Linked DNA regions of Homo sapiens: region 2 is linked to region 1. The links come from fine-mapping of genetic effects on gene expression. A gene starts in region 1. The other region holds a variant in brackets. All regions are shown on one strand. Distances are between the middles of the regions. Region 1 holds the start of SH3GLB1 (SH3 domain containing GRB2 like, endophilin B1). Region 2 has its middle 95 kb from the start of SH3GLB1.

Evidence for each region.
Region 2: its variant is fine-mapped to the expression of SH3GLB1 in whole blood (INTERVAL, PIP 0.98).

Annotation. Positions count from the first base shown.
Region 1 is chr1:86,697,935-86,708,368 of GRCh38, forward strand. It overlaps SH3GLB1 (SH3 domain containing GRB2 like, endophilin B1), which reads left to right and starts at 6,642. Exons shown (of 9, transcript NM_016009.5): 1 at 6,642-7,037. The coding sequence starts at 6,966. It overlaps CLCA4-AS1 (CLCA4 antisense RNA 1), which reads right to left and starts at 6,559. Exons shown (of 5, transcript NR_135837.1): 1 at 5,673-6,559. RefSeq lists enhancers at 5,846-5,915, 6,480-6,981 and a silencer at 6,806-7,295.
Region 2 is chr1:86,794,007-86,804,712 of GRCh38, forward strand. No RefSeq gene overlaps it. Among named protein-coding and RNA genes, the nearest start is that of SH3GLB1, 95 kb to the left of the region's middle. The variant A/T (reference allele first, on the strand shown) is at 4,856.

The DNA of each region.
Region 1 (10,434 bases):
TACATCTTAAATGCTGTTATATTTGTTTTTTATCTATAATTTTTTTGTTTCAATAGGTTTTTGGGTAACAGGTGGGGTTTGGTTACACGAATAAGTTCCATAATGGTGATTTCTGAGATTTTGGTGCACCCGTTACCCGAGCAATGTACACTGTACCCAATGTGTAGTCTTTTATGCCCCACCCCCACACCAACCCTTTCCTCCAAGTCCCCAAAGTCCATTGAAACATTTTTAAGCCTTTATGTCCTCATAGATTAGCTCCCACTTATGAGTGAGAACATACGATGCTTGGTTTTCCATTCCTGAGTTACTTCACTCAGAATAATGGTCTCTAATTCCATCCAGGTTGCTATGAATGCCATTATTTCATTCCTTTTTATGGCTGAGTAGTATTCCAGAAAATATATACAACATTCTCTTTATCCACTTGTTGATTGATTGGCATTTGAGCTGGTTACATATTTTTGAAATTGTGAATTGTTCTGCTATAAACATGCATGTGCAAGTATCTTTTTCGTATAATGACTTCTTTTCCTCTGGGTGGATACCCAATAGGGGGATTGCTGGATCAAATGGTAGACCTACTTTTAGTTCTTTAAGGAATCTCCACACTGTTTTCCACAGTGGTTGTACTAGTTTGCATTCCCACCAGCAGTGTGAAAGTGTTCTCTTTTCACCACATCCATGCCAACATCTTTTTTTTTTTTTTAATTAAAGGCCATTCTTGCAGGAGTAAGGTGGTATTGCATTGCGGTTTTGATTTGCATTTCCCTGATAATTAGTGAGGCTGGGAAATGCTCTTATATTTGTTTTAAAACTGGCATTGTAGGGCCGGGCGCGGTGGCTCATGCCTGTAATCACAGCACTTTGGGAGGCCGAGGCAGGCAGATTACAGAGTTTGAGACCACCCTGGCCAACATGGCAAAAACCCGTCTCCACTAAAAATACAAAAATTAGCTGGGCATGGTAGCAGGCACCTGTAATCCCAGCTACTTGGGAGGCTGAGGCAGGAGAATCACTTGAACTCGGGAGGCAGAGGTTGCAGTGAGCCAAGACTGTGCCACTGCACTCCAGCCTGGGCAACACAGTGAGACTCCATCTCAAAAAATAACATAACATAACATAACATAACATAACATAACATAACATAACATAACATAACATAACATAACACTGTCATTGTACAACATGAAGATGTATGGTAAAAATCATTCTAATAATTTAAATTATAATCTTTTCTTTGCTTAGAATGACATTAAACAGCAAATAAAAAAATGACAAGTCAAAAGAGATCACAAAATAAAGGAAAAAGTTTTATTTTAATACCTTTAAACAGCACTTTCCTTTTGCTCTTGAACAAAGGGCTCCATATTTTCGTTTTGCATTGGTCCCTGCGAATTATGTAAGTGGCCCTGTTTATCAGTCTAAAAACTGAAAGGAAGTTTCAGTGAGCATGGGAGACTTTCAATTCTTGCCTTACAGCAGCATGGCAGACATTGATAGTTGCTTACCCTATAACTATTCTCTTTCTGCCTTGCTAACAGAAACCCCATTTTTGTTCAGGATGACAGTAAGTGCTGTTTAAGAAATAAAGAAAGATTTAAAAATAAAATACTAATTTCTATTATGATTGTATACTTTCAACTGAATTTATATGTATCTATATATAGATATATATAGATATATAGATACATATATATGTATTTTTGATATAGATTTTTTTAAAGATATAAAAAATTGAAATACTTATTTTTCAACAGGGCACATTTCATTTATCAGTCTCTAATGCATTTACGGAGAACTAAACGACCCAGTTCTAGCTAATGAGATGTAAACCAAAGTTTACTACGTGGGGTTTATGAAAAAGCTGTTTTCTTGATTTAAGGAGTAAGAAGTAGACTCAGTTGGCATGTACTTTTGCCTTTACTTTTCATCCTTTTTCTGCCTTAAAAACATATTTAATGCCTAGAATTACAGGAGCCATCTTGAGACATTAGGATGAAAGCTACATGATAAGAATAGAAAAACAAAAACACAGAAGACTGCCTACCTCTGAACTTCTTAGAGGGTGAGAAAATAAATCAGTATTTGGGTAAGTCACTACAGCTAGGTTTCTGTTACTTGAGCTGAACATAAGCAGTCCTTAATCAATACAGACTAGATAACATGAAAACTCTTCTACTACAAATACTTAGAAATGCTGGGTAAAATGCAGCAAAATAAATTAATTAATTAATAATAATGCATACTTGAGCTTACAAAAAAAAAGACAGGGAAATATTCAGGTGGCAAAAATAAAAAAAGAAACTGGACACCAGGGTCTTGAATACAGAATATGACCCTGTCTGGAGAGGAGAAAGGATTGAATGAGGATGGTGCTTGAATGTTTAAATCCATGAGGTGATAAATGGATTTTAAAAATGTGATATATGTATACAATGGAAAACTATTCAGCCTCTAAAAAGAAGGAAATCCTGTCATTTGTGACAACATAGATGAACCTTAAAGACATTATGTTAAGTGAAATAAGCCAGGCCCAGAAAGATGAATATTGCATGATCTCACTTAAATATGGAATCTAAAAAAGTTGAACTCAATAGAAGCAAAGAGTGGAATGGTGGTTAGCAAGGGCTGGGAGAGAGTGAGGGAGCTGGATGACGCTGGTCAAAGGATATACAATTTCAGTTACATAGGAGGAATAAGTTCAAGAGATCTATTGTACAACATAGTGACTATAGTTAACAACATGTTGTATTCTTCAAAATCACTAAGAACAGACTTTAAGTGTTCTCACCATAAAAATAAGTATGTGACGTAATACATATGTTAAGTCACTCAATTTAGCCATTCCAAGATGTATACATATTACAAATCAGGTTGTATACAATACAGTATATACAATTATCATTTGTCAATTTTCATTAATTTTTTTTTTAAGATGGAGTTTCGCTCTTGTTGCCCAAGCTGGAATGCAATGGCGTGATCTCAGCTCACTGCAACCTCCTCGGTTTAAGTGATTCTCCTGCCTCAGCCTCCCGAGTACCTGGGATTACAAGCACCCACCACCACACCCGGCTAATTTTTGTATTTTTAGTAGAGACAGGGTTTCACCATGTTGGCCAGGCTGGTCTTGAACTCCTGACCTCAAGTTATCCACCCACCTCAGCCTCCCAAAGTGCTGGGATTATAGGCATGAGCCACCGCGCCTGGCCTTTATAATTTTTAAAAATACACGGTAACTTGTGATAAGACCTTGGGCCCTTGGTGCAAACAGAAATCAGTTAACTGTGAGCACACCCTGTCCCCCAACTTCATGACCTCACACACACACATAAGTTAAAAACCCATGAAATTCTGTACCCTCAATGAAAGGGTAGACTAGATAGAAGCTTTTCTTCTGGCATAGTAAGAAGCTTTTCTGTCAAGGCACAAGCTCTGAAAGAGAAAAAAACAAGGAAGATCTCTCTCCCTTGAGAATTTGAATCATAGTTTGTACTCCCACAAATCTGGGTTCAAATTTATAATATCTGAATGATCTTAGAACTTCTAAGCCAAGAAAGAAATTCATGTAAAAATTGCTCACTAGCCAGTGATAACCTTAGGGGTCTCTGACAGAAGAAACATTTTTTTCTGTATCACTAAAAATGAGCCATAAAAAAAAAAGCTAAAAGGAATCAATGTACAAAGCAAAAGGAATCAATCCACAAACAAAAAGGTCATCAAATACACAAATAGAAGTATTAGACCCCTAAATGCAAAAGGATTTATCTATATGATATCATTTATGCAGTTTAAAAATATAACATAGTAGTACCATTCATAGATACATATAAATTCAGTGAAAGTACAAAAACATAACAGATATTAATCATACCAATTTAAAAATAGTGGCTAACTCTGGGGAAGGAATAGTGTCAAGAAAAGCCTGAATAATTGATCCAGACTGAAGGAGAATTGAGCAACAAGCTAACTGGATGCAGCACATGATCTTTCTTGGCTGGGACGTTTTTGCTGTAAAGACATTGGAATAATTGGCAAAGTTTGAGTGGGGTTTCTAGGCAAAGGGTACACAGAAGTTTTTGTACTATTCTTGCAACAGTTTTCTTAGTTTGTAAATTGTTTCAAGTTAAAAAATTTGTTTTTAAAAAGAGGATGAAAATGAAAAATAGGAAACAGTTTCAGAGAAGAAATTGCCAGGATAGACCAATTGGTGGTGGGAAATAAGAGGAAATAATCAAAGGGGACTCAGATTTCTGGCTTAGGTGATTTGGTGTGTATGATTCAATTTATCAATGTAGGAAACCCAAGAAAAGAAGAATTTTCAGGAAAAGCAAACTATAACAGACTTGCCACTGGAAATATTGAATCTATGGATAAATAGTTGGAAATTTAGGCTGGGGGTGATGGTGTCACAAAAGAGCTTAGCACTGTAAACATCTTGATTTGATTACTTTTTTCACTTACTAAATCATTTGGGAATTCACTATGTTGCCTGTGTAAACCATAAAATATATAAAAATAAATAGGAAACGGACACTGCCCTTAAGGGACTGATATCTGGTAAGAGAAGTAGAATCAGTCTGTAGGCAAAGGGTAGAGACTGATGGAGCAAGTTCTAGAGGGTGACAAATTAGTTCTCAACCTTGGTCACACATTAAGAACACCTAGAGGAACTCCTAAAACATCCCAATGCCCAGTCCACACTCTGGGACTGGATCCAGGCATCAGTGGTTGCTTAAACTCTCCAGGTGATGCTGATGTGCAGCCAAGATTAAGGGAGCAGTGGCTCTACTCAGAACACCTGAGACACCTATTCCTTTGAAACATTTGGCAATGATGCAGGAAAGAGTGTGGAGAGAACAGGAGGTGGAAATAAGGAAATTTGGTTGAAGAGGCTTCTGCCAAACAGAGTGATGATTTATATTTTCTCTGTAAAGAAAGCGAATCAGCTGGGTGCGGTGGCTCACACCTGTCATCCCAGCACTTTGGGAGGCTGTGGCAGGCGGATCACTTGAGGCCAGGAGTTCGAGACCAGCCTGGCCCACATGGTGAAACTCTGTCTCTACTAAAGATATAAAAAATTAGCCGGGCGTGGTGATGCATGCTTGTAATCCCAGCTACTTGGAAGGCTGAGGCAGGAGAATCCTTGAACCCAGGAGGCAGAGGTTGCAGTGAGCTGAGATCACACCATTGCACTCCAGCCTGGGTGACACAGCAAAACTCTGTCTCAAAAAAAAAAGTGTCAAAGGCTAAGAATAAGGATATATGAAAATAAGGTAAGTCTTTTATGGAGAATGGGGAAACAGGATTACAGCTACAGAGGGTGCAAAAGAAAGAAGTAACATTGTTGTTTTCCCAAGACTGGGAAGATTGAAACACTTGAGGATGAGGATTCAGGGACACCACTGTGTCCACCATTAAAGAATTTCCCCTTTAATGGTGGACACGGTGGTGTGATCCTTTTGTAGAGACGAGCATAGGTTATGGCAAATATACCTACTTTAAAAACAGTGCTCTGGGAAGAGAGTAAGTGCTTTTCCACATAAAGATCTAAAATAGACAATAAATGAGAAATAGGGTTTTTTATTATATATTCATTTTTCCATATTTCTGGAAAATGAAACAGACATGGAGTATTTCAAAGCTGGGAGAGATCATTATATTGGAGTTACCTTAGAAAGAGGGGGCTGTTTCTGCCACCACAACAAAGAATGAAACAACACAAATATTTACGTTTTCTTCTTGTCCTCATAATGCTTTTACTGCACTCGTCTTTCAACCTTTAACATCTACTGCATCTGTGACTGTTGTTTCAGTAAAACACGGAAGCTTGAATGTAAGCTCATTTCATTGCCTGCTGCACAACCACACAAAACAGCATTTTCTTATTCTTGAAATATGATAGCAACGTCTCCTTCCATGCTTGTACCTGTTTTAATTCCTTTCAAGCAGAGGCTGTATCGTGAAAGATGCTTAAGAAGTTACTTGGAACGACAGGATTTGGAACGGATGTCACATCATATTCTCATTTGTTATTAAAATTAGTCACGCTTAATTGTTAAGGACTATCCTGTGTCGCTCGCCATCTTTGTGTCCTCCACCTGGCACTTTGCTTTCACACAGTAGGCACATAGCGTTGAGGTCCCGGAAGGTTGTCAAGTAACCGGCCAGGAGCTTGAGGGCAGGACATTGTCTCCGACACTTGATTCAGTGCCTGGCACACAGGAGGTATTCAATTATGCTGAATGAATGAGCAACCGGCTCGGTGGGGGACAGTAAACCCAACCCTATTCCGCGAACGTTTGCTGAGCGGCATCCAGGCCTCAGGGACCAAGTGTGTCGCGCGGTGCCATACCGTGACCGGGACCTGTTATTTCTAATGTCCAGATATTGTAATTCTATGCTGTAACTCCTATATTTCCTCTTAAAACAAAAAGAGAAATGTGGGTCGTGTTCGCTCTGGGTTCTCGTTAAGTGCAAGCATACAGAGGCGCCGAGACCCCGCGGCTCGCCCTCGCCGCTTCCTCCACAGGAGCCGGGCGGAGCTCCCGGCGCGCCCCGGGGCTGCGCCGCCGCAATCCTCAAGGGGTCGCTGTTCCCGCGATAACCTCGAGAAAGGCTCCGCCCCGCGGCCCGCGCTTGTTTTTCCCTTGGGACCCGGGTCCACACGGCGGGGTCGCCCGTCCATCTCCGGCTCGCCCGCGGGGCCCATCGTCGACGTTAGCGGCCGTTCTCCGAGCCGACTGACCCATCCTTGGCGCTGCCGCCGCGCGCTTGTTCTCCTCCCTCGCCCCGCCTTCATCCTCCCCGTTCACGGAAACGACAGCTGCGGCTGCGGGGCTGGCGCCGCCTCCCTCCACCTACCACGTCTGCCCTCGCCGCTCTAGCCCTGCGCCCCAGCCCGGCCGCGGCACCTCCGCCTCGCCGCCGCTAGGTCGGCCGGCTCCGCCCGGCTGCCGCCTAGGATGAATATCATGGACTTCAACGTGAAGAAGCTGGCGGCCGACGCAGGCACCTTCCTCAGTCGCGCCGTGCAGGTACCCTGGTGCTGGGGGGAAAAGGGGTGGCGGCGCCCGGGAAGGTTGAGGGAGGGGACCGCAGCTCGACGCGGCGCCCCCGGGCCTCGCCGACCACCCAGCGGGCCTGCTGCAGCCAGAGGCCTGGGAGATGGGCGCGGCCTGGTCCCCTCCCCGGGCCCGGCGGCGGATTTCTGCCCCGCTCCTGCCCAACCGCCGCTCCCTGGGAAGCGAGGCGGGGTGGGGACGGGGCCGGGAGCTTCCTCCCACCCCTGGGGAACACTAAGGCTGCACTGTCCGCCTTTCTGATACCACGACGTCAGTGCTCCTGTGGCCTCCACCCCGGGGCTGGCGGAGGCTTGCGAGTCCTTTGCGGTAACCGAGACACAGGCCATTCTTGCACTACCCCCCACCCTTTCCTTTCGTCTCTCACCCTCCCCTCGGAGTCCAAGAAGGGAGTTTCCTTTTCCTGTCCTTCAACCCAGAGAGCTGCCAACACAGTTCCCTCCGGCCCTCTTTCTCCCTGAAAGGACTGTCCTGGGCTTGGCAGCCCGCGGGGGAAATGGAGATCGCCAGTTGGCGTTGAGACTTTGCCAAGACCACAAGAAACCTAGGGTTGGGGGGTTTTCACTCTTTTTCAAAATGGGAAGCACCAGCTGTAGATCAAGGAGAGATGCGGGGATATTGTTATGGCTGTAGTCACAGTAGTATGTTTTAAATATACTTTAAGGGGAAAAGTTGACTACCTCTCGATATTCTACAATCAAGGAAGTGTCAGTACTAAGGAACTTGGGCCGTTTCCCACAGTCATCACCCATGTTATGCCAACTCAGTAAATCTGTGAACAGATGTAAATTTCACAACATGAATTATAAACAATCTGGTGTTTACGGTCACGGTAGCAACAACATTCTCTTTTGTAAAAAGAAAACAAAAATAATTTTCTAATATGCATACCAAATTGGTGCTGAAATGTAAATCTGTTCTGTGGCTTTACTACTTTCCTTGCCTTTGCCCCAATTTTGTTGGCACAGTTGATCCTACATTGCACTATCCCTGGCAAAAGAGTAGTAGAGCTAGAGCAAGGTAATAGCTGCCTATATTATGAAAAACCTGTCAAGCACTTTGTAATGCATTTGACATATTATCTCCAGTCTTTTCCATAACTTTGCCAGATAGATGTTATTAACCCCTTTTATATATGTGAGGAAGCAGCCTTACTGAGGTTAAGAAACTTGCACAACTAGTAAATAACCAGGTGCTGTCTGACCTAGTACTCCCAGCTGCTTTTTCTTCCGGGATAAGCATTCCAGATTTAAGATAGCTAGAATAATAGAATGCTGTGGCCTAGAGAGACCTTAAAAATCATCTGGTTCAATCTGAGCATTTCCATATCAACAAGCAAGTAACACTTTAGAGATGGTAAATTCCTTCTAGCTTTTGATTTCTAAGTTCTAAAATCTGCATGGTGAGTAATAAGCTAGCTGCCTTAACCCTTTTCTTCCCTTCCTTCCCTAAAATATGATATATTGTAGACGTTGAGCCTTTATAGTTAAAATAATGTTTTGATTTAAATTCACTAGCTTCTAATAGTTCAAAGACAAGGTGCAAGAAGAATGAGTGATTGAGGGTGTGAAATGAATTTTGATGTGTGAGACACTTGTACACTTTTAACATTGACTGCAATAGAGGACTAGAGCCCTTGGTATTTTTGTTTGTCCTAGTGCTCATTACCTATAATTCTAGATGCTTATGAGGATTTGACACTGTATAATGCTACTCTTTTAAATACAGTTAAATATGTTTCAGACGTATAACTCACACCCCTTAAAGAGGACACATTTACTAGAATTTAGTCTGATTTAAATTGTGGATAGACTCAATTTAAAAAATTAAATCTAGCAAAGCTCTCAAAATGTGTACTTCCCAAAGAATTTTAATTCCTTGTTTCAAATTCTTTAGGAAAAAGTTTTAAATTTTATGCTAATCTGTTAGCCATCAAATAATTTTCTTTTCAGTTTTAAATATTTAAGTGTCTACTGCATGTCTGATGTCTGCTTGTGGCTACTGTGGACACTGGTGATACAGCAGTGAATAAAATCAGCAAAGTGTCTGCCCTCCTGAAGCTTACATTGTAGCGGAAGATAAGCTTGTAAATACATCAGGTGGTGATAAAAATCATGGCCAGAAGAATAGAATAACGCAGAGATGGTGGTTGTTAATATCTTTATTAGTATTTTCTAACATTAGTATCGTGTATAGATAGGATGGTCAGGGCAAGTCTTTCTAATAGGATGAAATTCAAGAGACCTCAAGGAAGTGACAGACCTAGTTTTTTTTGGAATAAAAGTATTTCAGGCAGCAGGAAGAAGTACAAAGACTGAAGTTTCAGGGGCATTAAGGAGACCAATGAAGGAGCTGTGGCCATAATACACGTAAAAGGCGATTGTAACTTAGATTACAGTGGTAGCAGTGAAGGTTCCAAATTATCCAGTATTGGCTGTTGGATTGGCTGTGAGGTATGAGAGAAAGATGAGTTAAGGATGACTCCAAGGTTTTGGCTTGAGCCGTTTATTAAGGGAAAAATTTTAGGAGAAACAGACTTCTTTAATGTGTCTGTAATTGTTAGAGATACATACTGAAATGTTTATGGATAAACTTATATCATATCTGAGATTTGGTTTTTACAGGGTATTTTTTTTTTTTTTTTTTTTTGAGATGGAGTTTGGCTCTTGTTGCCCAGGCTGGAGTGCAATGGCGCGATCTCAGCTCATTGCAACCTTCGCCTCCCCGATTCAAGCCAATCTCCTGCCTCCGTCTTTCAAGTAACTGGAATTACAGGCAGGCTCCACCACGCCCAGCTAATTTTGCATTTTTAGTAGAGATGGGGTTTCACCATGTTGGTCAGGCTGGTCTTGAACTCCTGACCTCAGGATCCACCTGCTTCGGCCTCCCAAAGTGCTGGGATTACAGGTGTGAGCCACCACACCAGTTGAGATTAGCGTTTGAATATTTCAAAAGAAAAAAACAGAAGTCGCTGAAACAACAGCAACGGAATGTTGATAGTTGTGGAAGGTTGGTTATGGGTTCATGAGGTTTCATTATACTGTTATACTTTTGTATGTTTGACATTTTCCATAATACTTTTTTAAAGATAAAATTTGTAAGAAAAAAAGGATGCTTCTAAAATAGAACATGTGAAATTTGGAATGCTGTGTGGTAGTTTTCAACAAAACACTGCTTTCTCATCTCAGTATTTATTTCATCACTGAGTTCCTACATTAAATTGCATTGACATCAGTATAATGCCAAAGTACCAAGTTTCATGCTAAGAATAGCTTAAGAGCTATGCCAATATCTCTTTATAAGCAGTAAGAACAGTAGAGAGAGAAACATTCACGTTTATAAATAATAATTT
Region 2 (10,706 bases), 96 kb after region 1:
AAGTCTGGCCAACATGGCGAAACCTGCCTCTACTGAAAATAAAAAAATTAGCCCGGCGTGGTGATAGGCGCTTGTAAACGCAGCTACTCCGGAGGCTGAGGCAGGACAATCATTTGAACCCGGGAAGCGGAGTTTGCAGTGAGCCGGCGGAGATCACGCCACTGCACTCCAGCCTGGGCAACAAGAATGAAACTCTGCCTCAAAAAAACAAACAAACAAACAAACAAAAAAAAACAAATGAATCGGCCGGGCACGGTGGCTCACGCCTGTAATCCTAGCACTTTGGAAAGCCGAGGCAGGTGGATCACCTGAGATCAGGAGTTCGAGACCAGCCTGGCCAACATGGTGAAACCCCATCTCTATTAAAAATACAATAATTAACTGGATATGGTGGTGGGCGCCTGTAATCCCAGCTCTCGGGAGGCTGAGACAGGAGAATCACTCGTAACCGGGGGGCGGAGGTTGCAGTGAGCCAAGATCACACCACTTAACTCCAGCCTGGGCAAAAGATCAAGGCTCTGTCCCATCTCCCCCACCCCCACCCCGCCAAAAAAAAGATTCTAGTGTAACAGATGTTTTCCTAAAGATTCTTTCCCAGTAAGGAAAATCTGGACATCTGTAACCAGTTTCCAGATCCAGAATTTCCAAATAATTTCATCAAAATACTAGATACACTTAATAAAAACTAAAACAGAAAACAAAACTCCTACATGATAGAGAAACTTTGTTTTGATAATTTATGTTACATGTTTTATTCAATATCAAAATGTGCTGCATTTATAATTTTTAAAGTGTCTTTAAAACGTATTTTGTTGTTCCAAACAAGTGAAATGTTTCAAAACATATACAAACACACACACATTTCACAACTTACTGATCTGCCACTAAGAACGTCACATTCATTAGCCCACAGATTACTTATAAGCCACCATAAAAGTATCCTGTTGGCCGGGCACGGTGGCTCACGCCTGTAAACCCAGCATTTTGGGAGGCCGAGGCGGGCGGATCACCAGAGGTCGCGAATTTAAGATCGGCCTGGCTAACATGGTGAAACCCCATCTCTACTAAATATACAAAATTAGCTAGGCGTGGTGGTGCGCGCCTGTAATCCCAGCCTCAGAGACTGAGGCAGGAGAATCACTTGAACCGGGAAGGCAGAGATTACGGTGAGCGGGGATCGTGCCACTGCACTCCAGCCTGGGCAAAAGAGTGAGACTCAGTCTCCAAAAAAAAAGTCTCCTGTTGCTCCAAAAATGATTCCAAACTTGGAAATAAGTAAAAAAGATAACTGGGTGACCTTTGATCATGCTAAGCCCCATCTAATGTGAGTAGGGTCTAACATTGTTTGACTTACTAGTACTAATTAATCAGTGACCCAGACCCATTCTAGTCTATAAAATTAGAGTTCATCTCTGTAGAGTTCATCTCTGTAAGTTATAATGATATTTGTTCCTCTAAGTAATAACATAACTCAAAGGTTATGATGTAATTCCCCTGTAGGACATTAAGCAGTTTTACATCTAATATAGCAGTCTTATTTCAGCATTCCTTTTTTCACTGACTATACACATTGAATCAGCTTTCTTATCCTGCCAGTTCCCTCATAAATGAATTGAATAAAGCCTTGACACATGCATCTATTTGTATGAGAATTATCTTTATAGCAGTTTGGAAATTATGCCTTGATACTCTATCAGCATGTAACAGAATATGAAATAGCAGAATGATCCCATTTTAAACAAATGAGTCTGTCTTAGTTTGGTTTCCCAAGAAGTAAACCCTAGGACATAGATTTGAGTAGAATAGCTTATTTTAGAGGTGCAGGGACTACTAGAAGGGAAGTAAGGAAATGACAGAGGGAATAGCAGGCAGCCACCAAAGGGTGGTCATTAAGCCTGCTACCATCCTGGGCAGCGATGCAGCTCAATCCACAGGGAAACTGCAAGACAGAGTAGAAAATATGTGTGTCAGAATTATCCCACTCAAAACTGGGGGAGCTGGGATATTTATACACCAATTCCTATAAGTATTAATTGAAGACTGCTCCTGGGTAGTATCAATTCCCCAGCACTTCCTGCCACCTACATGGCAACTTTTCTCAGTGCTGGAGAAAGTTCTTGTGCATGAAGAGACAGACATAAGCCACGGGAAATCTTGGCATTTTCTGAAATGGTAGCATCCAAGGGATATAGACAGGATACTCAAGACCTTTTTAAAAAAACAAACAAAATAAAACATTTGCATTTAGTGGGAAATAATGTTATACTCAAGGTCACAGAACCCAAGTTCAATGCATCAACTTCCTCATGAAACAAAATAACTCTTTTTTTTTTTTGATGGAATTTCGCTCTTGTTGCCCAGGCTGGAGTGCAATGGCATAATCTCGGCTCACTGCAACCTTCACCTCCCAGTTGCAAGCGATTCTCCTGCCTCAACCTCCCGAGTAGCTGGGATTACAGGCATGCACTACCACGCCCGGCTAATTTTTGTATTTTTAATATAGACAGGGTTTCTCCAAGTTGGTCAGGCTGGTCTCAAACTCCCGACCTCAGGTGATCCATCTGCCTCAGCCTCCCAAAGTGCTGGGATTACAGGCATGAGTCACCACGCCCAGCCTAGGAACTCTTTTTTAACTCTTTTTTCTATGATAAAATATCCAGATTTGATTCTTCATCAAAGGACCTTTCCTCACAATTAGTCAACTGCAAAGTACTCAGAGCACAAGGCAGCTGCTTTTCTAAAAGAAATCTCTATTTCCAGACACTTGAGGGGTCTTGAGTAGTACATTTGCCATCAGAAGTAAATGTATTAACTATATAAGATGGTAAATGATCTTTTTGCAACATGAATGGAAATTATTGGTCAAATATTTCATTGTGTCTTCTTTAAGGTACATTTAGAACTTTTTATAATTAAATAGAAGCCTTTACAAAGTATTGGCCTAAATCCTAAATTATTTTCAAAAGTATTGATTTAACATGGTTTAAAAAAAAAAAATGGCCTGGCACGGTGACTCACACCTCTAATCCCAGCACCTTGGGAGGCCGAGGCAGGTGGACCACCTGAGGTCAGGAATTCGAGACCAGCCTGGCCAACATGGTAAAACCCCATCTCTACTAAAAATACAAAAAACTAGCCAGGCGTGGTGGCAGGCTCCTGTAATCCCAGCTACTCAGAGGGCAGAGGCAGGAGAATTGCTTGAACCCAGGAGGCGGAGGTTGCAGTGAGCCTAGATCACACCATCGCACTCTAGCCTGGGGGACAAGAGCGAGACTTCATCTCAAAAATATATATATATTATATATATATAAAATATATATATAATATATATAAAATATAATATATATAATATATAATATATATAATATATTATATATAAAATATATAATATATAATATATATAATAAAATATACATAATATATAATGTATAATAAAATATACATAATATATAATATATAATAAATATATAATATATAATATATAATAAAATATATAATATATAATATATAATAAAATATATAATATATTATATATAATAAAATATATAATATATTATATATAATAAAATATATAATATATTATATATAATAAAATATATAATATATTATATATAATAAAATATATAATATATTATATATAATAAAATATATAATATATTATATATAATAAAATATATAATATATAATATATAATAATATATATAATATATAATATATATAATAAAATATATATAATATATAATATATATAATAAAATATATAATATATAATATATATAATAAAATATATATGATATATAATATATATAATAAAATATATGATATATAATATATATAATAAAATATATAATATATAATATAATATATAATATATATACTAAAAAATATATAATATATAATAAAAAATATATAATATATAATATATATAATATATAATAAAATATATATAATATATGATATGTATAATAAATATATAATATATATAATAAAATATATATATATTTTTTTTCACCTTACAAGAGGATTTCTTGGCCTGGTACCATGGCTCACACCTATAATCCCAGCACTTTGGGAGGCCGAGGCGGGCAGATCACGAGGTCAAGAGATTGAGACCATCTTGGCCAACATGGTGAAAACCCGTCTCTACTAAAAATACAAAAATTAGCTGGGCGTGGTGGTGGGCGCCTGTAATCCCAGCTACTCGGGATGCTGAGGCAGGAGAATTGCTTGAACCTGGGAGGCGGAGGTTGCAATGAGCCAAGATCGCGCCACTGCACTCCGGCCTGGCGACAGAGCAAGACTCTGTCCCAAAAAAACAAAAAACAAAAATTAGCTAGGCATGGTGGCGGATGCCTGTAATCTCAGCTACTCGAGAGGCTGAGGCAGGAGAATTGCTTGAACCCAGGAGGCGGAGATCGTGCCACTGCACTCCAGCCTGGGCAACAGAGCGAGATTTCATCTAAAAAAAAAAAAGGAGGACTTCTAGATACCCAAAAAAAAAAAAGGAAGGAAGACTATGAGGCAGGAGAATTGCTTGAACTCAGTGACTCGAGATTGTGCCACTGCACTCCAGCCTGGGCAACAGAGCAAGATTCCATCTCAAAAAAAAAAAAAAAAAAGGAGGACTTCTAGATACCAAAAAAGAAGGAAGACTATGGACCACACCATCAGATTTATAAAAGAGAAACTTCCATGTTCCTGGGTTGCTAAAAAGCCCCATTGTGAGCCTGGGGGAACTTTATGAATGGTCCAGCTCAGCTGTGCTGCTCTGAGGCCTCTGAAGATCCACACTGAGGCCACACCGGCATGGTACTATGTCCTGTGCACTCAGAGAGTGAGCAAAAATACCTCCCCTC[A/T]AGTGACATGGGCACAAAATTAAAACTACTTCAACTCAAATTCTTGCTCAGGATGTTCTCTATTTGTTTCCTGAACACCAGATTATCTGGGTCAAAAACCAAGCCTCCAGCCTATAACTAGAAAATGAGGGTTCCTCAGAGTTCTACCCAAATCACAAGGGCATGATCTCCCACGCCACCTTCTTTGCATTGCTACATGCACATATGCAAACACATACACTGCAACCAGAACTCAGGATTTCCCCTTAAGTCCCCTTCCTCTCTCCCCAGGTATTTCTGAAATGGGAACTCCATGTAGGCCCATGCAACACTGTCAGCTGCAGGTGCCCACAGCAGCTACCCTGTTCTTCTGCCTGGCTCCCACACCATTTTCTGTGAGTAGCTGTCATCAGCCTCACCCCCTCCCAAGTTTCACAGAGAATCACTAGAAAATAATTCCTTTAGTTTCTTCTAACCAAAGAGACCAAGATGGGAAGGAGATCTATACCATCTATACCATTCAGCACTCCTCCTCCCGCTTCTTCTCCTTCTGCTCCTTTTTTTTCTCCCCCACCTCCTCTCTTTCTTTCTCCTGCTCCTCTCAACCTGGCCCTCAACCATAACTCTTCTCTCCTTCCTGAGTTACAGAGCTGAAGTTTCCTGGCACATCGAGGGATGCAAAGAGTTACAAATGGCAGTGGGAGAAAGAGCCTTTAATACATCTTTCAGCGGTGCTGACCTGCAGCCAGAATTTACCAGCCCTTCCTCTGTTCTAGTGCCATTGATCACCAAAGCAACAAGAAATATCTGAACTAGAGGGAGCCACTCCAGTTTATCTGATTTCTAAGTTGCTATCACTCAACAAAAATCCTAATATAAATCAGGCACTGTGTAATGTGGGTGTCCTAAGATCAACATAACTTTTTTCTTCTTATTATTATTACTACCTTAGTTCAGACCACCAACACCCCCTCTCACCTAAATTACCTCGATGCCTCCATTTTCCCCAACCCCAACATATTCTCATATGGTTCCCAGAATAATTTGTCCAACAAAACATTTGATGGTGTCAATGTTGTAAAGAAAAGCGAGTTATCTTTTAAAATCTTTAATACATTCCCTCAGAACTCACAGCAAAGTCCTAACATGGTAAAGCTTAAAAGACCCTTTGTGATCTACCTTCTGCTCATTTTTCCAGGCTCATCTCTTGTCCCTGGCCTCCCTGGAGATGTCCAGAGATGCCCCCTTCTCTCTACTCATGCTTCTCACAATTACAGGAATATGCTCTTCTCATCCCTTCATCTGTTAATTCTCATTAGTCTTCAAAGTCTTAGCCTAGGCATGAATTCCTGTAGGAAGCGTCCTCTGACTCAAGGCTGGGTTAGAGTCCCTCCTGGAGTTGACACCTTTGGAAGTATCTAATTAGCCCATGAGCCACACCTCCTTCTTTAAGAACTGAGCCTCACTTGCCCACTCCCCCAATTTACAGTCACTGGCCCCAGAGCCATGTTTTTACTATGACCTTGCCAATTAGACAAGGGTTAAACCCTTCATTGAAGGGGGACAAATTAGATTCCCCTCCCCAAGAATTTGGCATAGGGGCAGGCCATCCAGCCTCCTGGTCAGGCTTCAACATGTAAACCCAGGAATGAGCTGTGGGATGGTCATATCCCTCTGTGGGGACAAAGAAGCATGAGGCCAGGCTGCAGAGAAAAATGCAGCCCACCAGCAGAGAAAGACTACTTCTGGGGCTCCCAGTGGCTCTCCAGTTCCTGGTTCTATAATAGTCCTATTTGACATACTGCTACATTTTTATTTTTTTAACTCCTCTCTTTTGTTTAAGAGAGCTCAGTTGTTTTTTGTTTCTCTAAGCCAAAGTCTTAACTAATACATCCTTCTTGTGCTCATTTACCACATGCTTCAATGGCCTGTTCACTAGTTTGTATCTTTCATTGAAAGTTGTAACCTCCTTAAGGACAAAGATTATGTTTTATTCGTTATTGTTGTATCTCAAACACAGTGTTTGATACATCATAGGTATTCAAAAATTGTTTATTGAATCAAGGTCATAGTGAATACTTATTGCATACTGATTATGTACCAGGCACTATTGTATTCACTCATTCAATTCTCACAAGAAGAAAAAGTAATTACTGTTTTGTTTTGTTTTGCTGATGGACTCTCGCTCTATCACCCAGGCTGGAGTGCAGTGGCGCCATCTTGGCTCACTGAAACCTCCGCCTCCCGGGTTCAAGCAATTCTCTGCCTCAGCCTCCTGAGTAGCTGGGATTACAGGCATGTGCCACCACGCCCAGCTAATTTTTGTATTTTTAGTAGAGACAAGGTTTCACCATCCTGGCCAGGCTTGTCTTGAACTCCTGACCTCGTGATCCACCTGCCTCGGCCTCCCAAAGTGCTAGGATTACAGGCATGAGCCGCAGTGCCCAGCGCTAATTACTGTCTTTTTATACCTACTTTACAGATCAGAAAATTAAGGTGCAGAAAAGTTACTAGCCCAAGACCACAAAACTAGCAAATGGAATTTAAGTCTATGCAATTTAAGTGGGATTTAAGACAAGCTGGGAATTAAGTCTATGCAATCTGACTCCAGAGACCATGCTCTTAAGGAGGCCTCGCCCTGCTTAACAGAAATAAGAGAGAAGGGATGCAGGACACAGTGCCTTTCCCAGAGTAGCTTATAGCATTCTTTTCTATCTTTCCTATGGTTTTCATGGTTTCGTGACACCCATTTGGTACTGTATCTTATGCAGTCATGTTGTGTCTAGAATTGGTGGGTTCTTGGTCTCGCTGACTTCAAGAATGAAGCCGTGGATCCTCACAGTGAGTGTTACAGTTCTTAAAGATGGTGTGTCCGGAGTTTTTTCATTCTGGTGGGTTTGTGGTCTCACTGACTTCAGGACTGAATCTGCAGATCTTCACGGTGAGTGTTACAGCCCTTAAAGGTGGCCCGTCTGGAGTTGTTTGTTCCTCCTGGTGGGTTCATGGTCTTGCTGGCTTCAGGAGTGAAGCTGCAGACCTTCACAGTGAGTGTTACAGCTCATAAAGTTAGTGTGGACCCAAAGAGTGAGCAGCAGCAAGATTTATTGCAAAGAGTGAAAGAACAAAACTTACACAGCGTGGAAGGGGACCCGAGTGGGTTGCCGCTGCTGGCTAGGGTGGCCTGCTCCTTTATTTGGCCCCACCTACATCCCTACACCCTGCTGATTGGTCCATTTTACAGAGAGCTGATTGGTCTGTTTTGACAGAGTGCTGATTGGTGCATTTACAAACCTTTAGCTAGACACAGAGTGCTGATTGGTGCATTTACAAACCTTTAGCTAGACACAAAAGTTCTCCAAGTCCCCACCCAACTAGCTAGACACAGAGTGCTGATTGGTGTGTTTACAATCCTTTAGCTAGACAGAAAAGTTCTCCAAGTCCCCACTTGACCCAGAAGCCCAGCCAGCTTCACCTCTTAATCCCCCCCTAAACAGGACACCCCAACTGCTGTTGGGAATTTGGCTGATGACCGCTCTAGCTACTTCCTGCTGGATAGGGGTGAAGAAGGGGCCCTGCAGTTGTAGTGTCCTCCAGAGGGGAACTCTTTAAGCCAGTGGAAGGGCCAGTGGGTTGGTCCAGGGGTCCTCAGTAGAAGTTGTTAGTTGAACTCATTTGGGGTTCCATTTGTAAGACCATCTGTAGCTTGATGGCCTTAATTCTAGGGGAAACAAATTTGACAAGGAGGTTAAAAACACAGGGCCTGAAGGCAAGTAATAGCAAGATGGCTACCACGGGACCTAGAAAGGGGAGAAGCCATGTTGCCCAACTCCAGAGGTTGGTATAAGAATTGTGAAAGGTGTTTTCTGATTTCAGAAGCCTTTTCCTGTAATTGCTGGGCAGCATCTCATACTATCCCTGACTGGTTAATGTAAAAAGAACACTCTTCCCCTAAGAAGGTTCAGAGTCCTCCTTTCTCAGCAGTGAGGAGGTCTAGGCCTCAATGGTTTTGGAGAGTCACTGCTGCCAAAGAATCTATTTGGGATTGTAGAGTAAGGATAGATTTCATTATTTCTTGCAAACTGTCTGAGAAAGCCTTTGAGAGTGTGTGGTAGTAAGATAATGCATGTTACACTGTTAACTTTTAGCAAACTCTACTTTAGTAGAAAACCTTGTAAGTTTGGAATTTTAATTTTTCTTTGCTATTAATAAAACCTCATTCAGTCCATATTAACTTAGAATTGGTATAGATGTCTCCTTCCTGATTCTGTAAGTACTTTAAGATTTGGTTTAGTGCAAACAACTCACACATTTGAGCAGACCAATTATTAGGCAATTTTCCTAACTCTGCTTCTACAAGAGTTTCCTTAACATTTACTGAATACCCATTGTGTCTTTTTTCCTTAATCGCCCAGGAGGAACCATCTATCCTCCTGTCCTAAAGGGAGTTCCTCCTCTGTCTGGTCGGACCTTCAGATTTAGATCCCCTGTTAGGAAACCTGCTGGGTTAAGGATTTTTGATAGGAAGGCTACGGGTTGTCAGTGGCCTCAGTGCTTTCGGGCTACCCCCTTGTTTACACTAACAAGGTGGTATTGGAGTGTTATAGGGTCACAGAGAAGACCTTCAATTATCAATTATAGGTTTTAAATTTACCCTGGCTTTTAAAGGAATACGGTATACTGTTTTTTCTTTACTACTTCCATCTCCCTTTCTTTCTCTTTGACTTATTCATCTTTCACTTTCTCACTCCCTCTTTGTCTGTCTTTTCCTCTCTTTCTTTGACTTTCTATGTCTTTCTCTCGCGTTCTCTGTCTCTCTCTTTGACTCCTTCTCTTTGTCTCTCTGTTTCTTCCTCTCTTTTTTCTCTGTCTCTTTCTCTCTTTCCTTTCTGCTGGTCTTTCCCTGACTCTGCTAGCTGCTTATGCTGCTGTTCTCCCTTCTCCTTCCCCTTTTTGATGGCTTTGGCAGTGTAAGACTGCCAAATCCTTGGGTTTTTGCACTGTGTGCAATAACTCTGTGATTTCCTTGTGGTATTTAATGGGGGTCCTCCAGAGGTTAGGAACTCCCTTTCTTTCCATATTGCAGCATGGGCATCTAGGATTAGATAAGCATACTTGCTATCTGTATACACATTTATTCTTCTTCCATTTCCCAGTTCTAAGGCTCAGGTAAGTGCCACTAGTTCTGCTAACTGGATGCTGGTCCCTGGGGGAAGAGGCTTACTTTCAAGTATGTTTACATCACTAACTATGGCATAACCTGCCCTTCGTATCCCATTCTCCACAAATGAACTTCCATCAGTATATAGGTTAAGGTCAGGATTAGCTAAGGGGACTTCTAAGAGATCATCTCAGGTGGCATAAATCTGCACTATAATTTGTTGGCAGTCATGCTCGACTGGTTCCCCATCCTCTGGGAGAAAAGTGGCAGGGTTGAGGGCCATGCATGTATGTATTTGAAGCACTGGTCCCTCAAGGAGTAGTGCCTGGTATCTAAGTAGGCAGTTGTCTGATAGGCATAAACTTCCTTTGGCACCTAGTATGCCATTTACATCATGAGTAGTCCAGACAGTGTGATCCTTTCCTTGTATTATTTTGATAGCCTCTGACACTAAGACAGCCACCGCTGCAACTACCCTTAAACAGTGAGGTTAGCCTTTTACTACTACATCAGTTTCCTTACTTAGGTATGCCACTGGTTGTGGGGTTGTCCCACGAGTCTGAGTAAGGACCCCAAGAGCTATTCCTCCTCTCTCTGTGACATATAAAGAGTTTTTTCCTGTGGGAAGACTTAAAGCTGGAGCTTGTACTAGGGCCTGCTTTAAGGTTTTGAAGGCTGTTTCTGCCACTGGTTCCCATTCTACTAGATGAGTAT